Linked DNA regions of Homo sapiens. The protein of the gene in region 7 purifies or fractionates together with the protein of the main gene of each other region. This does not show direct contact. Each region holds a gene or a part of one and is shown on either strand. Other genes may lie near its edges.

Region 1 (3,500 bases), on a different chromosome or scaffold from region 7:
TATAAATGACCAGTGATGAAACACGATTTTTGGCAAGAAAAGGGGAAATGGGTAGAAGATCAGAAAAGAAAACTCAAACACCAGTTTTTTGACCATGACTTCCAAAATCATGAGGACATCCTTTGGGTGACAAAGGAAACTAGAGGAATATTAGAGCAGTGTCCAGAAAGTTTTGATAAAGGAAACACAGTAAAGAGACTGCATTTGACATTCTGAAGGGAATGTTGGGTCCTGAAGCATGAAGCATGCCAGCCTAACAATATTGGCAAGAAGTTTCACTTTCTCACACTAAAAAAGAAAAAAAGACTGGACAGGAAAAACAAGAACTTCTAAATCTGCTTAGTAGAGTGGAATATTAGAAAGAGGCAAAATTCAGGTTGAGAAAGATTTGTCTCACTGTTTGTTCCAGAGGTTGTTTTCATGTTAAGACTGTATGTGGATTTAAAGTGGGGAATGGAAGCAGAGATTCTGGAATGGTCAGTTAGACTTCCTGATCTGCGCAATGGCCTTTGTCCAAGAGTTTAGTCTGGTTTGCTTTGAAAGCACCTAGAGCTGGGCGATTGTATGCATTGATCTTGTATAATCTGGATTAGAGTTTTATATACAAAGCTTGACCCAGAAAAAGCATTCCTGGGACAATTAGGGACTACAGTGGAAACTTCCCTACTGTACTTGATGTGGCTAAAATCTCTAGCCTAATTTTAAAACTATTCCAATTTCCAGTAAGGGAGGAGTAACTCCTAACAAAACAGCTCCTCTGCAAATCACAACTATAAATTCTAGGAAGAATTAAAAAAAATACATGAAACAATCACCTGAAGGCACTAGAAAGGTGGCAGAAAATGGAGGGGAATCCATACTTGGAAGAAGATACTGGCACTAAATGAGTTTTGTGCTTTTGTGTTTTGTTTTGTTTTTGTCCCCCACCCCTAACCCACCCCCAACCTAGGGAAGGCCCTGGTCAGTGGCTAAAACTCAAATAGAACTCCTAGTCTTACTGTACTGAATAAAAAGAGAACAGAGATTGAGGGCAATGACAGCAGCTGCAAAATGAGGAGGAGAGTAGTATATCTTAGAAAAAGAGCCACAAAACAACAGTTCTATAATATGCATATATATTTTATCCAAATAACTAGATGACTTGAATAGTAAATGCGCAGAGTATATTTCAAATAGCCCAGCTGAAATAAAACCTGAATAGAGATTTTAACTACTTGTCATTGCAAGAAAGTCAATGCTTGGAAATTGAGTTGAGCCAAGTAAATTTCCTGCTAATAAAAAAAGTTAAGACTATTCACAGGCATATAACAGAATCTAGAATCTCCACACCTGTAATTCAAAAATATAATCCAGGTTATGATCCAAAATTACAAGACAAGACAGGAAAATGTGATGCAACCTCAAGGAAAGGTAATAAATGGAAAGTGATGTTGAGATATTCCAGATGTTGGAATTATCAGGCAAGGATATTAAAGCAGCTATTATAAGTATGCTTATGCATGTAAAGAAAAAAAGTTCATAAAAACAAACAAATAGAAAATTCAAAAAAAGGAGAACTGAAAAATACAATATGTGAAATAAACTTGTGGGGCTATAAATAATTTCCATAGTATGTAATATTGTATAGAACATTGACAGGGTTCTAATTTCTAGATAATTTTAGTAGGAATTTTCCGGTCACATTCCTACTATTTATGTCAAATACATCTATTTCAATATAAATTTATCTTGTGTGATTCTATTTTTAAAATTAAATTTATCTATTACAATTCCTCTGATTCTATTTCCTCTTGAAAACCAGGCACTAAGTTAAATTTTGTGGAGGGAATGTGGTGGGCAGGTTTATTTGGAGAAGTTCTTTCACATTACCACTGAATTAGAAAGAATTCTGAAAAATGCAGAGAGTTAAAAGTTATAAAATTAGTACGGTATTCTAATTTATGTATGCTCCTTGATGACTTTCTAAAGCAAATTAAGGACAGAGGGAATCAAAATGGCATTCTATGTCAATCTGGAAGATAAATGATTATAGAAAAATGATTATAGATTATAAATGATTATATGAAAAATGATTATAGATTACTTCTTGAACTCAGCGCCTTAGACCGCTCGACCATTCTGACACACAGATTACTTCTAATATTTTCTTGAGTTGATTAAAATCTGTTTTTTTTCTTTTCTTTTTTTTTTTTTTTTTGAGATGGAGTTTTGCTCTTGTTCCTCAGGCTGGAGTGCAATGGCGTGATGTTGCCTTAACACAACCTCTGCCTCCCAGGTTCAAGCAGGTCTCCTGCCTCAGCCTCCTAAGTAGCTGGGATTACAGGCATGTACCACTATGCCCAGCTTAATTTTGTATTTTTAGTAGAGGCAGGGTTTCTCCATGTTGGTCAGGCTGGTCTCGAACTCCCGACCTCAGGTGATCCGCCTGCCTCGGCCTCCCAAAGTGCTGGGATTACAGGTGTGAGACACTGCGCCCAGCCCAAAATCTGTTTTCAGTGAGAATACTGGGCATAATTTAAGACCTGATTTTTTTTTTTTTTTTTTTTGAGACAGGGTCTCACTCTGTCACCCAGGCTGGAGTGCAGTGGCGCAATTACCATTCACTGCAGTCTCAAACTCCTGAGCTCAAGCGATCCTCACACTTCATCCTCTTGAGTAGCTGGGACTACAGTAGTGCACCACCCCATCCAGCTATTTTTGTATATTTTGTAGAGATGAGGTTTCGTCAGGTTGCCCAGGCTGGTCTCAAACTCCTGGGCTCAAACGATATGCCTGTCTTGACCTCTTAAAGTGTGGGGATTACAGGCGTGACTCACCGCACCTGGCCTAAAACCAGATTTTTTTAATTTTACATACCTGGTAGATCCAACTTTACACAAGGTAATGATTCACCTCTCCCAACTGGACACTTATAGACATCTCCAGTTCTGTTTTTGGGTTGGCCAACTAACGGAGAACCAATAAGCACCCTGGAAGTTAAATAAATCAGTAAACATTTTTGAACATTGAGAAACAGTTTATATGAGTTGTTTTATGACTGATTTTAAGATAATTGACAATAACACTCATAATCAGATAATAATCATGCTATTAGTAATTTAATGTTATGTAAACTAAGCAGAGAGCCTACCTCTTGCATATTGATGTGGATTAAAAAGTATATATACACACACACACATACATATACAATATACATATATAGCATATACATGTGTGTATATACATATATATGTGTGTATATACATGTATATGTGTGTGTATATGTAGGATAGATATTTCAGAGATTTTGCTTTATTATTTTGTTTATATTACTTTATCATATTTTTTATTGGGGTACTGAAATAATCAATAATTATTGGCTAAGTCTGCTACTGTATTAACTTATAAAACACATGTGGAAGTATAAGTGACTTTTTCCTATGATGAACTGCTAATTTTATAGAGAAGTCAGGAAATATAAACATTGGAACATCATAAGATTTAATATTAGCATGTGCTAG
Region 2 (2,216 bases), on a different chromosome or scaffold from region 7:
CACCATGACATCCATGAGGCCTTACTCCATGTAACTCCCCCTTCTCTGAAGGCTGACATTTCCAAGTGCATGCCACTAAAGGTAACAATGTCACAGCGACTAAAGGGAACAATCGGGATCAGTGGTTTGATATGTATTTTATGTGTGTTCACTTAAAACCCTTATTAGGAATCTTAAAACTCATATTCATCAAAAAACTAATAGAGATGTTAATATTCTGAAAGAGGAAAATAAAAAAAAATACACTTGAAATCCCTAAAGCTCAGATTCAACAAATCTGAACTACCTTTCTTCATAATGTTTCATTTCAGAAACTCTGCCGAGACCCGATGTTAACACGAAGACTAGATTTGTTCTGTATTAAATATGAACTATAAATAAATATTTGAGGTATGTTATGACAAATAACTTTAATATAACACTTAGCTAAATAAATGTAAATTTACCTTGAAAATCTAGTTAAACATTAAATCTTGATATTTCCTACAGATGTTTCCTACAGTTTTTTTTATTTACACAAAAAAACCTCTCTACTCTTCATAAACGGTAATATATCAAAAAATTGAAATGCTTTAATCTCACGATTTTATAGTCACCTTGCCTTTGTTAACCAAAAGCTATTGTATACATTGCGTAGTGTAAAAAATGAATAATGGAGTGAGAGAAATCTATGTCTGAATCCTGACTTTACCATTCTGTATGATCCTAAATGAGTTATTTTACTTCTCTGAGTCTTGGTTTCATATGTTTTTTAAAAAAATAATAAAATCAGCCGGGCATGGTGGCTCATGCCTGTAATCCCAGCACTTTGAGAGGCCAAGGCAGGTGGATCACTTGAGGTCAGGAGTTCAAGACCAGCCTGGCCAACATGGTGAAACCCTCTCTCTACTAAAAATAGAAAAAAAATAGCTGGGTGTGGTGGCACACACCTTAATCCCAGTTCCTCAGGAGACTGAAACAGGAGAATCACTTGAACCCAGGAAGCGGAGGTTGCAGTGAGCTGAGATTAAGCCACTGCACTCCAGCCTGGGTGACAGAGCAAGACTCTGTCTCAAAAAAAAAAAAAGAATCAAATCTTTGCAAGGTAATTAAGAGGATCAAAATGAATGATGATGTATATTAAGTGCTTGTCAAAATGCTCTACAAATCGTCAACACTCAACAAATGCTAATTTTTTTCCTCTCTGTTCCTCCTTTCTCTCCATCCCCAACACCTTGACTCTGAATTACTTTTGAATATTTTCAAGAATTAAATCCACCTATAAAGAATAAGGACTTAATGCTAATGAAAATAACCAAAGAATGCGCTCCAACCACCCATCTTACCTCCTGGGAGTTTCTAAATTAATAGGATGAACTCAAGGATATTGTATTTGCATATTAAAGCTAAATAATATATGAATTTACAGTTTATAAAGGACAAGATGACCTTTTCCAAAACAAGTAATTTGAAGCCTAAGCTCATGGAGAGTCTTCATTAAAACTTCTAATAGGAGCTGTGACTATAAAGTAATGGGATCAATTTATTAAGAAACATATAAGACCCTATATATACAATTAAATGGTATCATCTACAAAACAGTCACTTCAGTTGGCTATGTAATATTCCAGTGATGCTACCATAGCCCCAAGTATTTTGTGAACCACTCTTAATTGGTACATATTCCAAAGCTTTATTTTCTCATGATTTTTACTACTTAGTCTACATTCACCAACAACACATTAATGAAATACCTGCTATTTATAAGGAGCAGATACTTGAGGAAGTACAATATTAACACTGTGGTGCACATTTCAGGCCCATTTCTTTGAGTTCTGGCCCAATCATCCCAAAGGATTTTATGGAGTGGCAGATGGTAATCAGGTAATATGACACCTGAAGATACCTGGCACCTGATCAGTGATCGCCAAACTGGATGACTGTTCATGGCAGCAAAGGGAGTAAGGGGGCTCTCTAACTACTCCGTGCTGAGTCCAGCAATCTTAGCTACCAGAAAAAGTGCCAATCCCACCAAAATTCTCTCAATGCAGTATCTTAATGATCAGAAGAAAATTAAGAAAACACCACACCTCTCCAATCTACATATCTTTAACTCCCACACCAAAGGAAAATTTCTCCTTTAAAGGATCAGAGCTCTCCCATAGAGGGTAAAGGGGAACCCTGAGGCCCCAAAGGAGACACTAGTTCAATCAGCAAGGTTTTCTTAATCAGCAAGA
Region 3 (3,500 bases), on a different chromosome or scaffold from region 7:
TTCCCAAGCCCAGACTCTTCATTTCAAAGTGTTAAAATATACTATTTTACCCTTTAAAATAGAAACAGAAATCATGTTTTCTGTCATTTTGTTTTTTTGAGATGGGGTCTTACTCTGCCATCCAGGCTGGAGTGTGGATGACATGATCACAGCTCACTGCCGCCTCAACCTTCCAAGTTCCAGTGATCCTCCTGCCTCAGCCTGAGTAGCTGCGACTACAGGCCCATGCCACCACACCTGGCAAATTTTTGGTTTTTTGTTTTGTTTTTAGAGACAGGGTCTCCCTAGAGTGCCCAGGCTGGTCTCGAACTGCTGGGCTCAAGTGACCCGCCTGCCTTGGCCACCCAAAGTGCTGAGATTACAGGTGTCAACCAATGTGCCTGGTCATCTTATTTGTTTAAAGCTAGGTTTAGTATGGTATCATGTACCATCAGAACTATTTTATTTTACTTTTTATTTTATTCTTCTCTTCTCTTCTATTATTTCTTCAGATAGAGTTTCGCTCTCGTTGCCCAGGCTGGAGTGCAATGGTGCGGTCTTGGCTCACTGCAACCTCTGCCTCTTGGGTTCAAGTGATTCTCCTGCCTCAGCCTCCCAAGTACAGGCACCCACCATCATGCCCGGCTAATTTTTTTGTATTTTTAATATAGATGGGATTTTGCCATGTTGACCAGGCTGGTCTTGAACTCCTGACCTCAGGTGATCCACCCACTTTGGCATCCCAAAGTGCTGGGATTACAGATGTGAGCCACCGCGCCTGGCCATCTTATTTGTTTAAAGCTAGGCTTCGTATGATATCATATAGCACTAGAACTATTATTTTAATGTTCTAAAATATAAAGCATTCTAGGAAGATGGGGTGTTGATCTTTTCTCCATTGCAGCCCTTATGAACCAAGTGACTGATCCTCACTACTCCGACAGACACAGCCAGATTGTGACAAACTCCCTAAAAATTCTGAAGGGAAGTCAAGGTCTGTAATCATTCAGGGTTAGCCCACCCAGACTTACGCTATGGGATTAGAGTGTGTAAGACGGGCTAATGGTTATGGGACACCTCTGGGGTGCTGTCACTTTTTCAGAAAAGTCTATAAGGATGCAAATGGGTGAGAGGGACACTTCTCTAAATTCAGCAAATAATTAGCAAACTTCTGCCTCTTTTGGATTGATGCTATTATCTGTGATCCACAAGATGTCAATCTCCCACCCCCATCTCCTTTTTTTGTTTTTCCAGAGACAGGGTCTCACTCTGTCACCCAGGCTGGAGTGCAGTGGTGTAATCATAGCTCAATGCAACTTTGAACTCCTGGGCTGAAACGATCCTCCAGCCTCAGCCTCTCGAGAAGCTAGGACTACAGGCACACACCACCATGATGGGCTACTTTTTTTTTTTTTTTTTTTTTTTAAGAGAGATGGGGGTCTTGCTATGTTGCCCAGGCTGGCCTGGAATCTAATGGATCCTCCTGCCTCAGCCTCCCAAAGTACTGGGATTACAGGCGTGAGCCATGACATCTGGCCCACAAGATGACAATCTCATATGGTTTAGCTTAGTATTAGTAAATTGCTTCTGACACACATCACCCAGGGGTGCATGATCACCCCCAGACGGGAACAGCGGTATGAAGATACTCAATAGCAGAGTCGGTCGCTGGCAGTCTTGCATCACTAGGATGACAGTTAACGGGAAGCACTTGCAGGGCTTTCTGACTCCAGAAGAGCTGTGTCCCTGCACTTAAATGCCGCGGGCACTGCATGTCTACAGTGCCGCTGTCTGCTCTTAATGATTCATCTGTCCTCCGCGCTCATCAAGCCTCTCCATCCTTTCTGCAAGGCCGGGGTTTGGCTTTATACCCAGCTCAAGGTGCGAGGAAAAGATCGAGGCAAAGAGACAAGGTGCTAAGGCGGCCTCCTCCACCCGCTCCTGCAGGCCCACCATGCCCACCTGTTGGCCACGATGCTGGGGTAATAGGCCTTCTGGTTCTCGTCCACCTTCAGGTCACTCTGGTGGATGAAGCGCTCCTGCTCCTCGAAGGCTCGAATGACGCTGACCCCCAGCAAGGTCTCGTTGAAATGGGAATAGACCGGGGAGCGGCTGACCGACTCGAGGCGCTTCAGCTGCCGGGAGGAAGCCACGTAGAACCTCTGGGGTAGAGAACAGACGCGGGGAGTTGATGAAGGTTCCCTCCTGCCATCCTCCCAGGGCAGGGCTGTGCTGGAGAACATCTAGACGTAACCGATACCTCCAGGAGGCAAAATGTTAGAGCCGGGCTGCCCTCACAGGGGTGCCCACTCACCTGGTGAACCACAGGAATAGCACCACCAATGACAAGGACAGTGACAATAATAGCTCACGCTTATACAAAGCCCACAGCCCCAGGCATCGTTCTAAGCAGTTTTACAAACATCAGTTCATTCAATCCTCACAAAAAACCTGAGGTGCTCATTCCTATATGTGATGGGTAGACTAAGGCACAAAGAAGCTAGTTAATCTCCTCCCCAAGGTCACATGGCTAGCAAGGGGCAGAACTGGGATTCAAACCCAGGCCATCTGGGCTGCAAAGTGCTAACCTCTACCCTGTACTGCCTCTCTGAAGCCTTTCACCTCTAGGGTTTTCTGGAACCAGCAGTGTGGTTTTCAGCATAGGCTTTGAGGTCAACGAGACCTCAGTTCAAATCCTGACTCAACTACTGACTGGCAATATAAACACGACTAACACTTTACTTCTCTAAGCCTCAGTTTCCTTATCTGTAAAATGGGAACAACAAGGCTTGCTCGGCCAGGTGGGGTGGCTCATGCTTGTAATACCCGCACTTCAGGAGGCAGAGGCGGGAGATCACTTGAGGCCAGGAGTCTGAGACCAGCCCAGGCACATGGCAAAATGCCATCTCTACAAAAATAAAATATTATTAAGAAAACAAACGAAACAAAACAAAGCTTGCTTCACGGGGTCATTGTGAGGGTGACATGTAAGAGTTACAGTCTTACATGTGATGTGTATTTGCGTGGACACATTATTTCATAAATCATATAGATATGCATGATGTCACTAAGCACAGTGCCTGGTAATACTAGGTTGAACCACAGGAAATAGCTGTTTCTGTAGATAAGAAATAAGTATTAGCAGTTTCATATAGTTTGACCTAACAGTAAGCATTCAGTTAGCTGGTGACTATTGTTATCATTAAGTGACAGAATTCCGCCTGTTGATCACATCCCCTCAGGAGTGACTGTGTCCATGCAATGGCCGGTTCCAGCACACTCAGCCCAGCTGAGATGCCCATGAGGATAGGGTCAATCTCGTCACCCCCCTCCGATGGCCTCCCAGCGCTGTTAGAGTTGCCAACCATGCTTCTTCCCTCAACTCATCTCATCCTGTAACTCTCCCCTTCCTTCCCTGCACACAGGCCGCCTGCCTCCACCCACCATGCCCATCCCGTCCAGGCCATTCCTCATCACCCAGCAGATGGGAGCACAGATGTCACTTCCTCGGGAAGCCCTTC
Region 4 (3,500 bases), on a different chromosome or scaffold from region 7:
ACTGGCGTTTTTGGATTAATAAAAAATTCCATGAGGGATAAAATAGGCCACCTTTTTTTTCTCGTAAGCAAAGAACACTAGCTTCATGTGCTGGTGAAATGGTCACCGCTCTACACCACCCACGCCCAGCTCTCCCACACATCCCCTCCAGGGAGCAACGGGAAGGAGAGGCCACATCTTCCCAAGAAAAACAAGCTAAAGCTTCTCAAACTCAGCTGGGCATCACAATGACCTGCAGGAAGTTTTGATTTTTTTCTTAACAGAAATTCCAGGACCCCATCCTGGATGGACCTACTGAACCAGATCTCCCAGTGGGAAGACTGAAATTTCCTTACTAATCAGGCTGCCACACTACATGCATAAAGGGGTGAAATATCAACTAATCCTACAGAAGTGACCCCTAGTTAGTGAGAGGGACTTCCCATGCATGGAGAGATTCCAAGAGATAAAAACCCACACGAGGAGTAATTTTTTTAAAAATGTACTTTGGCCATCAAGATTCAAAGACATCTAAAGGCTAGAATACTGGTTCTTTTCTTTCTTAAGTGGTGGGACCCCTTTTTTCAAGCAAAATCTTTCTTAGTATCCCAAAATATCAAACTAATAACCAAGCTTTTCTGGAGGAAAGAGAGGTACTGCTCAGTCCACACCCCACCAGCACAGACCCACCCACCCACATACGCCTCAAGGAGGCCTAGGATTGCTGGTAGCAGGTTTGAAATCCAATGGGCCAGAATAAGACATTTAAATGGGAGAAATAAACAGAACTAAATCTAAATTCAAATAATTAACTGGAGGGTTAGGGCTTCTGATTAGCATATAGCTTAGGGGGATGGTTTAATAGAGTTCACTTGAAAAAGTGAAGGTTTTATTTCACTAAAAAGTCAATCCAAGCCAAAGTGTTCGTTGGCTGCCAGGGAAAGCAAGTGCAGTTTAGCCTGGGTTAATAACTAGTATTTGTATTTAGAGATTTACCATTTATGAAGCACGTTGATATGCATGATCTCACATAATACTGGATAACAACTTTGCAGAAAATTATTTTCCTGGTTTTTTTAGATGAGCAACTGAGGAACTAATCTGTGAAAGTAACTTACTCAAAGTCAATTCCAGACAGTAGCAGAGGCTTCTGCCACCAGGCACAGCACAGCCTAGGGACTGAAGGGAGAGTTCAAGAGCCTGCTGCTCTTCGGATGGTTAGAAAAGCCTGTGAACAACGTGTTTCATTCTGGTTGCTGCATTAATAGAGGTGTGTCCAAATGGGACCCTAGGCAGAGCACCGTGACCAGGGCAAAGAACAATCTGGAAACAGTATATGTAGACCTAACACTCTAAAACCGAACCCTGACATGCTCTTCAACATCTCAAAAGTTACTCCACATCTCTGTACTCCAATTTCTTCATCTGTCACAAAGATATAATATGTTTGGAAGACTCTTTGAGATGCTTACAAGAAAAACATCATTAGTGTAAACACATGGAGGAACTAGGAGCTTTTAAAGGTGGAAAACAGAATGTTTAGGAATGACATAATGGCTATTTTTAAATAATGAAGGACCATGGGGAAGGAAGATAAGTCTTATTTTACATCATTCAAGAGTAGCCGAGGCTCTTCGCCTTCTCCTTCCTGAAAATTCAAAGCCATTAGGTAGGTCCAATCTGGTAGGCTTCCTACGTTTACAAAAACGTAGGAAGAGGGATGCTGTGGAAGCCCAGAGCAGGGTATCTCAGGGAGAAAGGTATCCATATGGGGATGGGGGTGGTGGCACAGGATGCTAGAGCACTAACAGCTGAGGAGGGCAGCCCCAGGAGGAAAGGTGGTGGCAGCTGCAGAAGATTGGTTACATATGGGGAGATTTACCAAATAAGTAAACTGTTAAGAATAATGCGAACCAAGAATCTCACTGTCAAATAAAGCAGTTATAAAATATGGAGAGGAAAAACTAAACCCTGTGGTATCAGACAGGAATTTAAGGTATGACTGTAAACTCATGGTTTTAAAAGTACATAGATACAGAATTACAGATGTACATGTGTGTCTGTATATACACAGAGTAGCAACACCCTAATAGCAATGAGCACACCAAGCAACCAGATCTTGGCTTCTAAATTCCATTCTCCATTCAATAGCTCCTTGGAGAAATGTCTGATACAAAAGATGACACAGGTAAATCACAAAATGAGTTTGGAACATCTTATTCTGCCAGAGAGCAAGATGGTGCTCAAAGACTGATGGGAGTTAAAAGAGCACAGGAGCCAATGTGAAAAGACTGCACTGGCCAAACCTAGGGCCATTTTAAATAAAGTAATGACAGTAACATTAAACCACACTGAAAAAAGGAAGACACTAAGTTCTTACTGATATAAATAAATAACAGATTGAAAATTTGATGAGGAATAGGCTATTTACATGGTTTCAATGTAATTTGCCATAAAACATTTATAAATTACAAATGAGAAAAGAGTAACTATATGGTAGAGAAGCCTGGCAGACAACACCTTGATCAAGTGACCATCATCAGTAATGGGACAAACAGAAATCAATGCCACCCTGATAGGGTACAATGAGAACGCAGCACCATTTCTGTACTATTCCTACCAAAGATGCACAGCCTGAATCTAAGCTTGTGAAAATGGCACAAACACAAACTGAGGGACATTCTGCAAAATAACTGGCTTATAATTGTCAAAAGTATCAAGAGCATGATAGTGAAGGACTGAAAGAGACTAAAAACATGTAACTAAATACAAAGTGTGGTTCTGACCTGAATTCTTTTGCTTTAAAACATTATGGGAGCAACTGGGAAACTTGGATGAAATCTAAGGATTAAATGGTGTTAATGTATCATTGGTAATTTCCTGGCTTTCATGGTTGTACTGTGGTGATCTAGGAGAATAGTCCAGTTTACAGAAAATACATACTCAACTGTTTGTGTGATAGCCAACATGCTGGCAACTTTGTCTCAAACAGGATAAAAACAGGTTCTCTATACTACTTGCAATTTTCCTATTGGTTTAATGTTTCCAAATAAAAATTTTAAATGAACAGTAAATTAGGAGGATGGAAATGATGGGGAGACAGATAACATCTAGTTTGAACAGATGAAACTCTACAATTAAAGTGGTCCAAAAACAGATCCATGCTTAGAAAGGTAGGCACGATACAATGGAGAATGCTTCACTGACTAGGAAGTTAGAGGAGATGATTCCTACGTACTTTCTGATGATTTTGTAATTCTTTCCTTCAACATACTTTTTTTTTTTTTTTTTTTTTTTTTTGAGACAGGGTCTTGTTCTGTCACCCTGGAGTGCAGTTGCAGCCTCAACCTCCCAGGCTCAAGTGATCCTCCCACCTCAGCCTCCCAAGTGGCTGGGACTACAGGCACGCATCACCACACCCAGCTAATTTTTAATTTTTAATTTTTTTTTGTAGAGATAGGGTCTCACTATGTTACCCAGGCTGGTCTCAAACTCTTGGGCACAAGCCATCCTCCAGCCTC
Region 5 (3,500 bases), on a different chromosome or scaffold from region 7:
ATTCTGGGCTAATGGATCCTCAGCACATACACAGTGGATAAGCAAGAAGGTTCAAGAGGGCCTTGCAGAATGTAAAAGCCAGTGAAGACATACAACAGCTGGACTTTGAACGCACTCCCCTGTACACACAGTGTTCCATCAGTAGAGAGAGAAAGTCTTACTGCCTCAAGGTGTTTGAGCCAAATGTTTAATTAATGTTTGGCTGAACACTAAGCTATATACACACCAAGGAGAATCTTGGGAAACTGGGTTTAAGAATAAAATCAAGGAAAAAACTCTAACAGAACAGAGACTAAAGTAGACACATATTGCATGGGAGAATTCATAGATTTAGTTTAGTGCTATGGTTTGAATGTCTGCACCCTTCCAAACTCATGTTTAAATTTAACTGCCATTATAACAACATTAAGAGGTGGGACCTTTAAGAGCTGATTAGGCCATGAGGGTTCCACCCTCATGAATAGATTATGCTGTTATTGCAGGAGTAGTAGGTTCATTATAAAAGGACAAGTATGGCCCTCTCTTGGTGCTTCCACCATGTGATGACTTCCACTATAGGATGATGCAGCAAGAAGGCTCTCACCAGATGCGAGCCAACTGGTCTTGGACTTCCCAGCCTCCAGAACTGTGAGAAAAAAAATTATTTTCATTATAAATTTTAAATTACCCAGTTTCAGGTATTCAGTTATAGGAGCACAACATGGATTAAGCACAAAATGGATTAAGACATTTAGTATAGGCAAATGGCTAAACCCCCACACACAAATAAACAGAAGAACAACTTTCAGGGGGAAAAGTTGTTTCGCCAGGCTGGATGCCATCCACACTGTCCTACAATATGTTATCTAAAATGTCACTCTTCAACAAAAAATTACAAGGCATGCAAATAAACAAAAACTATGACCCACACTCAGTAAACTGAAACTGTTACCTGGGGCTGAGTGTGGTGGCTCATGCCTGTAATCCCAGCACATTGGGAGGCCAAGGTGGGAATTTCACTTGAGGCCAGAATTTCAAGACCAGCCTGGGTAACATAGGGATACCCAGTTTCTTTTATGTTTTTATTAGAATTTTATTTTTCTAATAGAAATACATTAAACACTTTTTTTTCTTTTGAGATGGAGTCTGGCTCTGTTGCCCAGGCTGGAGTGCAGTGGTGCGATCTTGGCTCACTGCAACCTCCACCTCCGGGGTTCAAGTGATTATCCTGCCTCAGCCTCCCAAGTAGCTGGGATTACAGGCATGTGCTACCATGCCCGGCTAATTTTTGTATTTTTGGTGGAGACAGGGTTTCACTATGTTGGCCAGGCTGGTCTTGGTCTCCTGACCTCAGGTGATCCACCTGCCTTGGCCTCCCAAAGTGCTGGGATTACAGGCGTGAGCCACTTAAAGATACTTTTAATTCAAAAGGTACTAAACAGTAGAAAGTGAAAGTTTCCTTGCTCCCATGAACCCCAGATACCTAGTTTTCATGTTTCTTTTCAAGGGTATATTGTGCATTAATCATTCAAATCCCTGGGTGTTGTGTGTGTGTGTGTGTGTGTGTTTACTGTCCCCCTCTCCATACTCTAATATTACAGAAATGATAACATGCTATCAACCCTGGTCTTTATTTTGCTTTTTTGCTTTCCAATATCTTGGAAATTGTTATATGCATGTAACATCTTTTTTACGTTCCAGGATACATGTGTAAGACATGCACGTTCATTACATAGGTACACATGTGCCATGGTGGTTTGCTGCACCTATCAACCCATCACCTAGGTATTAAGCCCCACATGGATTAGCTATTTATCCTGATGCTCTCCCTCCCCCTGACCCCCACCAGCAAGCCCCAGTGTGTGTTGTTCCCCTCCCTGTGTCCATGTGTTCTCATTGTTCAGCACCCACTTATAAGTGAGAACATGTGCTGTTCAGTTTTCTGTTCCTGTGTTAGTCTGCTGAGGATAATGGCTTCCAGCTCCATCTGTGTCCCTGCAAAGGACATGATCTTGTTCCCCTTTATGGTTGCATAGTATACCATGGTGTAGAGGTACCATATTTTCTTTATCCAGTCTATCACTGATGGGCATATGGGTTGATTCCATGTCTTCGCTATTGTAAACAGTGCTGCAATGAATATATGTGTGCATTTCTCTTTATAACAGAATGATTTATATTCCTCTGGGTATATACCCAGTAATGGGATTGGTGGGTCAAATGGCATTTCTAGTTCTAGGTCTTTGAGGAATTGCCCCACTGTCTTCCACAAAGGTTGAACTAATTTACATTTCCACCAATAGTGTAAAAGCATTCCTATTGGGAGACCTGGTTTCTACAAAAACAAACAAACAAAAAAAAGCCAAGTGTGTTGGCTTTGCACCTATAGTGCTAGCTACTCAGGAGGCTGAGGCAGGAGGATCACTTGAGCCCATGAGTTTGAGGCTGCAGTGAGCAATGATCTTGCCACTATACTCCAGCCTGGGTGACTGAGCAAGACTCTGTCTCCAAAAATTAATTAATTAATTAAAAAAGAAACTGTATCTGAGTAATTGAGTATTCTCAGAAGTCTGACATTTAGCAAAGACTTCAAAGAAAGTAGTATAAGGGAAATAAAGCACAAAGAAATAAACAAAAATATGGTAACAATGACTCAGCAAATACAGAATCTCAATAAGGAAACACTTCAAAAAGGAATAAAATGGAAATTCTAGCACTGGTAAGCACAGTAAGTAAAAGGTACTTGTATTGCTGGGCGCGGTGGCTCACGCCTGTAATCCCAGCACTTTGGGAGGCCCAGGTGGGCGGATCACGAGGTCAGGAGATTGAGACCATCCTGGCTAACACGGTGAAACTCCGTCTCTACTAAAAATACAAAAAAATAGCTGGGCGCAGTGGTGGGCGCCTGTAGTCTCAGCTACTCGAGAGGCTGAGGCAGGAGAATGGCGTGAACCCGGGAGGCGGAGCTTACAGTGAGCCCAGATAATGCCACTGCAGTCTGGCCTGGGCAAAAGAGCGAGACTCTGTCTCAAAAAAAAAAAAAAAAAAAGGTACTTGTATCAGTCAGGGTTATCCAGAGAAACAGAAGCAGATGACTATAAATATTGACAGACTTGTTTCAAAAAAGTGGCTCACAAAATTTTGGAGGCTGGCAAGTCCAAAATGTATAGATAATACTGGTAAGCTGCTCACCCTTGGGCAAGAGTTGTTATGGTACTGAGGCAGTATTTCTTCTTCAAGGAAACATCAGTTTTGCTTGGACTTTAAACTGATTGGAAGAGGCCAACTCAGTGTATCAAGGATATAATCTCATATATACACTAGTCTACTGACTGTAGATGTTAACCATATCTACAAGGTATGTTCACAGCAACACTTAGATTAGTATTTGATTAAATAACCGTACTATAACCTTACCACGTTGACACATAAAACTAACAGTCACAGTCTACATCTTGTCAATTTGGCACCTATATGTGTCTCCTTAACCATATTTAATCTCCAACTAAAGACGATTAGAA
Region 6 (2,464 bases), on a different chromosome or scaffold from region 7:
AGCATATTTACTCTTTAAAAATATTTAAACCTTCCTGCTTATTATGATTTTTTTTAAACTGTGCAGATGACTCTGCTTTTGCATGTTGCAGCAGTTTGGCTGATTTTTTTTCCCTCTCTATTCCAAGCACACATTTTATTTCAAAAGGTAAGCTTTAGAGCAGTGCTTCTCAACTTCAATGCAATATGAATCACCTGGGGATGCTGTAGAACTTACAATTTGACTTGAATAGTTTTGAGTGGCCCCTGAGATCTGTGTTTTTTAACAGGCTCCAGGTGATGCAGCACCATCTGTCCCTGGGCCACACTTTGAGGAGCAATGCTTTACACTGTCTCAAAACTTCGAAGGCAGTTTAAGAGTCTTACAAAAGAAGATCCTTGTGGTCACTGCTAGAAACATAGACTGGACACTTATGGCAAATTAATTATAGCCTCAGTCTTCTTAAATTGAGTCTTGGATGTGAGCAAAGTGAATGTATAAGATAAAAATAGTAAAATATATAACTTATAAAAGCCCAAAGAAAATGGCTTTATTTTCAAAACAATTGTAACAATATTCAATAATGTGGTATGAAAAAAGTGGGTTACAATAATGAAACTTTTCTGTTTGTTATACTTGGATATGAGAAAAACTACTAACTGTTGACTACAATTTAATTTTTGTTTCTCATAAATCAAATGAATTCTGCAACTTTTTGTACAAACATGCATTTATTTTTACAGTTTTTGTGGAAAGAGGCAAAACACATTTAATCAAAAACATCAAACACCACATTTGAAAAAAGACTTATCTATTATGTATAAAGGAAAATATCCAAGACAATTTCTTTAAAATATATACAATTCTAACATAGTTATGCAATATATACATTCATATTTTGACTTAATCTGCCAAAATAAACAGGTACATATGAAACTTTATTTACATAATGGCTACAGTTTCAGTCTTTAGAGTTCAAAGAAATAGTTAAGATTTTCACCTATTTCATACTTTTCCCCCATGTTTCTCATTCACCTCTAGAGGTTTAAATTAACCTTTCAAATTGATTAAAATGGGTATGCCTGAATGTACACAAAAGGGCATTGTTTTATGTGTGCAAATTGAAATATTAAAGATGGATCAGGGATCTCAGTTTAAGGAATCCTGCCTTCTGTATGATGATGTCTTAATTTTTGAGATTTTCATATATTGGGTTATAGCTATATATCAGGACAGGTAAATACATTATAAAATTATAACCTTTATAATAATTTTTAGTATAATCACTTGTGTGACTATAATAAATTGGCTTTAGTTTTACTCTTCACAGTTTTAATAGGTAACTATTTTACAAGAATAACATTGCTAGGTAGAAAAATTTCTGTTCAGTTAGGAGTTCTTATTTTGCTGCTGAAATGAGTCATGCACAATTTTAAATCTCTGTAGTTTCTTCATAAGCTATTTTACTATCTTACTATTTTATAAGCCTTGTGTTGCAGTCAAGTTTTTACCACATTCTATAGACCTTGTCTGTACACCATTTATGAAATGGAAATTTGAATATGACATCTTTTATGCCCTCTACTTACTTTTAAAGCAAAAATATTGTTGAATAGGAACACATAGCTTTTATTTAAACAATGTTTTTTCCCCCTAAATTTCTTGTATGAATACTTACCTTTGCTTAAAAGTGCTTGAGAAATACTGCCCCCCAGGAGGCATTTGACAATGTCTGGAGACATTTTTTGATTGTCATGACTGCGGGGGGAGCATGCTCTGGCATCGGGTAGCTAGAGGCCAGGAATGCTGCTAAACATACCTTCTAGGACAGGGCTGCTGTCCTACAAGGTACAGGACAGCCCCTGCAAGGAAGAATCACCTGGCCCCAAATGACAGTAGCGCCCAGGTTGAGAGACCCTGTCCTGGTGTGATAAATGGTGCAGAGACAAGTGGCTAATGGTTTATAGTAATTCAACTACTCCCTGGAAACAGTGTAAACTAGGCTGATTACCTAAGGCAAGGCTAACCAAAGCTTTCAAGTTCCGTATATGTATGTTTAGCACTTATTTAAGGAAGTACTCACCTAAAGGAGGTGAGACAGAGTAAAAGGAAGGATGTGCTATAATTGTTTGTATAGCACATTGAAAAGCTAGTATTTACATATACAGTACTAACTTTTTTTTTGTTTGTTTGTTTGAGACAGAGTCTTGCCCTGTCACCCAGGCTGGAGTGCAGTGGCGCGATCTCGGCTCACTGAAACCTCTGCCTCCCGGGTTCAAGTGATTCTCCTGCCTCAGCTTCCCGAGTAACTGGGATTACAGGCACCTGCTACTACGCCCAGCTAATTTTTATATTATTAGAGATGGGGTTTCACCATGTTGGCCAGGCTAGTCTCAAACTCCTGACCTCGTGATCCACCGGCCTCAGCCTCCCAAAGTGTTGGGATTACAGGTGTGAGCCACCGTGCCTGGCCACATTGTCTTTT
Region 7 (3,500 bases):
CTGCTCTTGATTCTTCTGTACAAGGGCTGAAAATGATGTTTAAAAAATCATGTATTAATTTAGTACATACTTAAAGTAACAGAGCATAAGAGTCATAGCTCAAAAGAGGGCAACATATTTAGATCCTGAATAGTTTAAAGCGGGGGTCTCCAACCTCCAGGACTGGTATGGGTGCAAACAGCAGGAGGTGAGCGGTGGGCAACCACAAGAAGCTTCTTTTGTATTTACAGCCACTCCCCATGGCTCACATTACTGACTGAGCTCCTTCTCCTGTCAGATCAGTTGTGGAATTACGTTCTTACAGGAATGCAAATCCTGCTGTGAACTGCACATATGAGGGATCTAGGTTGCATACTTGTTATGAGAATCTGATGCCTGATGATCTGTCACTGTGTCCCATCACCCCTAGATGGGACTGTCTAGTTCCAGAAAAACAAGCTCTGGGCTCTCACTGATTCTACATTATGGTGAGTTGCATAATTATTTTGTTATATATCACTATGTAATAATAATAGAAATAAAGTACACAATAAACCTAATGCCTGTGAATCACCCTGAAACCATCCCCCCACCCTGATCCAAAGAAAAATTGTCTTCCATGAAACCAGTTCCTGGTGCCAAAAAGGTTGGAGACCACTGGTTTAAAGAATACCTAGAACAAAGAAAGTCAGAACAGGTCCTCTGAATGTACTCCCTGTCCTCCTGCCCTCACACCCACCTCCTTCAAGGGGATGTAGCACTTTTCCATTCCTGTACCATGTGATATTGCCATCTGGATAACTGTCTTCTGAAATGCAGTCACCCAACTGCAAAATAAAAAGGCAATGTTATTACCTTGGTTCAATCAGGGGCTGTCAATTTGGAAACTCCAGAAACTCAGGCAATGCAGAGTTATTCCAAGGGTTTCTTGACCCGTTTATTTTCCAACACTGACCAAAGACTGAATACATGCTCTCTGGTATAAAAACAATGTCTTTTTAAGACCTTTTTAACAATTTATTTGAAAATATACTTTTGACGATTTTTAAATGTGCAATAGATGGTGTCACTATTATAAAATCACATTCATTTGAAAGCATTGCCAAATTCATTTTGACACTATTCATTTTTAACATTAACCAAATAACATTACTCTATTAACACTGACTATTACCATGAATCATAGATCTTCATACGGAAGAATAATTTGGTGTTAAAATGGGGCTGTGTCTCCAGTTTCATACTACATATATTTCAAGAGGATATACATTATCATGCTCTATAATTCCCCTCACTTTCTTTAAATGTATTTTAACTTTAATATTTGGTATTCATCAAATAATTTTATGCAGTAAAATTTAATATGACACAAAGAATGTAGGACTTGGGTTTCCATCTCCCAACAAAGGAAAACTTTGGTATTTTAGTTACATTATTATTCAATATGGAACTCCAACTTTGTCCCCCACTTTAATACAGCTTCCCTTCACATATCTGCTAATGTGTTGTTCGAATCTGATCTCACCTCTTTACTTCAATCTTTCAGTAGCATAATTTGCCAACAGAATAAAGTCCAAACTCCCTATTTAGTATGTAAGATTTGTCATGATCCAACTTTTCTTTGCCTCTCCAGATTCATCTCTTTCTATCCTTTCTTGTTTTCTGTCTTGGCACCCAGTTTCATCAATGCCAAAATTTGCTGTTTCCCAAACACACCGTTCTCTTTCACATCCTATTATTTCATATTGTTGGAAAGCCATTTCTACCTTTGGCTTGGTGAAAATCTATTCATCTTTCATCATTCTCTCTATATATTTTTTCTACACAGGGTCTGGCTCTGTCGTCCACAATGGAATGCAATGGTGCAAACATGGCTCACTGCAGCTTTGACCTCCTAGGCTCAAGCAGTCCTCCTTACCAAGCATCAGCCTACCAAGCAGCTGGGACCACAGGCATGTACCGCTATGCCCAGCTAACTTTTAAATATTTTTTATAAACAAGGTCTTGCCATGCTGTACATTCCTGGGCTCAAGTGATCCTCCCACCTTAACCTCCCAAACTGTTGGGCTTACAGGCATGAATCATGCTAACTGGCTTCATCCTTCTATTAAACAATCCATTAATTCAAATGAGAAAGACTCCTCTTTTCAGAAATGACCCCACCTTCCTTGATGTCCTCATGGTTACCTGAGACTGTGAGCATGTTGTACCCTCTGTGCCTTGTAGATAATTTCTGATTGGTAGCTGCAACACTGTCATCTCCACAAGAGCAAAGCCTTTCTTACTTGTCTTGGAATGTAAGGTCAGAAGAAGGCACTTACAACACTGGCTAAATAAAGGTATTAATCAAAAACAATTCTTACCTTTTTTAGCTGCTCTGTTTCGAGAAACAGTGCTTTGCTTACAATTTCAGGTTTAGATGGTTGCTCTAAAGTTAAGCAGAGAAAGATTTTAAGTACATATGTAAGAAAAACGGGACTTCTGTGATTTGATTCACAGCAAAAACAATTCATTTACTCAATACAGAAGAATAAGCAACAGAATAAAAATAGATTTCGTTATACAATCTGGATTTGGGGAATCTATAGGTCTACCCCTTCAAATATTTATTATCTTAAATATTATTTTCAGTGCTTGTAATTCCTTTGAATAAAATATAAATAATGCTTTCTGAATGCTTTATAAATAGTGAATATGGATTTGATAGTGAAACAGGGGCTAATGTCCTATATAGGATATATTGTCTCTAATTGATTACCATGAGCACTTCTTACTTATCAGTAACTTCCAGCTCATTAACTGAAGACATTAATTTACATGAACCAGAATCACAAAGATACTTGTTTAAAATTCAGATTTCTGAGCCCTATTTGGCCTACTGAATCAGAATTCCTGAAAAAAAAAAATCCCATAACTCTACATTTTAAACAAGTTTCTAGGGGATTCTCAGTCACCATAAAGTTTGAGAAACACTGTTCTAAAATCATGGGAAATAGAAAGCAAGTTAAGGAATTTATAAACCCAAATTTCTGAAATATCTCTAACTTTACCTCTTAAGCCAAGTCACAATATGAAAGTGTAAATGTGAGAAAATCTTTCAAATGTGGAACCTGAGATGATGGACAAAAACATTTTAAATATAGGTAGTTCTAAGAAACATAAATTTTAATAAAGACTTCAGGAGCAATTGATTAAAAGTTGCAGCAACAATTTATTATTTAAACTGATTTTAAGTTATTTTATTCTTAGCTGCTATTTTCTATCAATGATGGATTTTGCGCTTTTTAAATAGCTCCAACAATTAGTTTACACAAAAAGTATATTGCCTCATTGTCACTGATGTTTGTGAGTCTCATGGACCAAAATTATTCTATTTTCTTATAAGCAAATGTATTTAAACAATCAGCTACTTTTTCTTTTATAGTCTTATTGTTTACCACCTAATACTTTTAATTTTGATTACCAAACTAAACTAAATTGGCTTTTGTATAATTATTACTCAATTTGGAATTCAGTTATTA

What was found.
Region 1: the proteins of ALCAM (region 7) and ITGA1 purify together in Homo sapiens (affinity purification with western blotting, with the first as the bait; one study listed by BioGRID). This does not show direct contact.
Region 2: the proteins of ALCAM (region 7) and SLCO5A1 fractionate together in Homo sapiens (co-fractionation; one large-scale study listed by BioGRID). This does not show direct contact.
Region 3: the proteins of ALCAM (region 7) and ABCC1 purify together in Homo sapiens (affinity purification with mass spectrometry; one large-scale study listed by BioGRID and IntAct). This does not show direct contact.
Region 4: the proteins of ALCAM (region 7) and TSPAN5 purify together in Homo sapiens (co-immunoprecipitation; one large-scale study listed by IntAct). This does not show direct contact.
Region 5: the proteins of ALCAM (region 7) and AAMDC purify together in Homo sapiens (co-immunoprecipitation; one large-scale study listed by IntAct). This does not show direct contact.
Region 6: the proteins of ALCAM (region 7) and ITGA2 purify together in Homo sapiens (affinity purification with western blotting, with the first as the bait; one study listed by BioGRID). This does not show direct contact.

What each region holds. Positions count from the first base shown.
Region 1 is NC_000005.10:52,860,916-52,864,415, reverse strand, and holds part of ITGA1 (integrin alpha-1 precursor), read right to left. Parts: intron 2,970-3,500; coding exon 2,857-2,969; intron 1-2,856. UniProt on the Homo sapiens protein: Integrin alpha-1/beta-1 is a receptor for laminin and collagen. It recognizes the proline-hydroxylated sequence G-F-P-G-E-R in collagen. Involved in anchorage-dependent, negative regulation of EGF-stimulated cell growth.
Region 2 is NC_000008.11:69,668,763-69,670,978, forward strand, and holds part of SLCO5A1 (solute carrier organic anion transporter family member 5A1), read right to left. Parts: 3' UTR 1-2,216.
Region 3 is NC_000016.10:16,120,616-16,124,115, reverse strand, and holds part of ABCC1 (multidrug resistance-associated protein 1), read right to left. Parts: intron 2,142-3,500; coding exon 1,942-2,141; intron 1-1,941.
Region 4 is NC_000004.12:98,648,612-98,652,111, forward strand, and holds part of TSPAN5 (tetraspanin-5), read right to left. Parts: intron 1-3,500. UniProt on the Homo sapiens protein: Part of TspanC8 subgroup, composed of 6 members that interact with the transmembrane metalloprotease ADAM10.
Region 5 is NC_000011.10:77,838,144-77,841,643, reverse strand, and holds part of AAMDC (mth938 domain-containing protein), read right to left. Parts: intron 626-3,500; exon of another isoform or gene 459-625; coding exon of another isoform or gene 420-458; intron 1-419. UniProt on the Homo sapiens protein: May play a role in preadipocyte differentiation and adipogenesis.
Region 6 is NC_000005.10:53,092,816-53,095,279, reverse strand, and holds the end of ITGA2 (integrin alpha-2 precursor), read right to left. Parts: 3' UTR 501-2,464; downstream 1-500. UniProt on the Homo sapiens protein: Integrin alpha-2/beta-1 is a receptor for laminin, collagen, collagen C-propeptides, fibronectin and E-cadherin. It recognizes the proline-hydroxylated sequence G-F-P-G-E-R in collagen.
Region 7 is NC_000003.12:105,530,909-105,534,408, reverse strand, and holds part of ALCAM (CD166 antigen isoform 1 precursor), read right to left. Parts: intron 2,408-3,500; coding exon 2,343-2,407; intron 807-2,342; coding exon 719-806; intron 1-718. UniProt on the Homo sapiens protein: Cell adhesion molecule that mediates both heterotypic cell-cell contacts via its interaction with CD6, as well as homotypic cell-cell contacts. Promotes T-cell activation and proliferation via its interactions with CD6.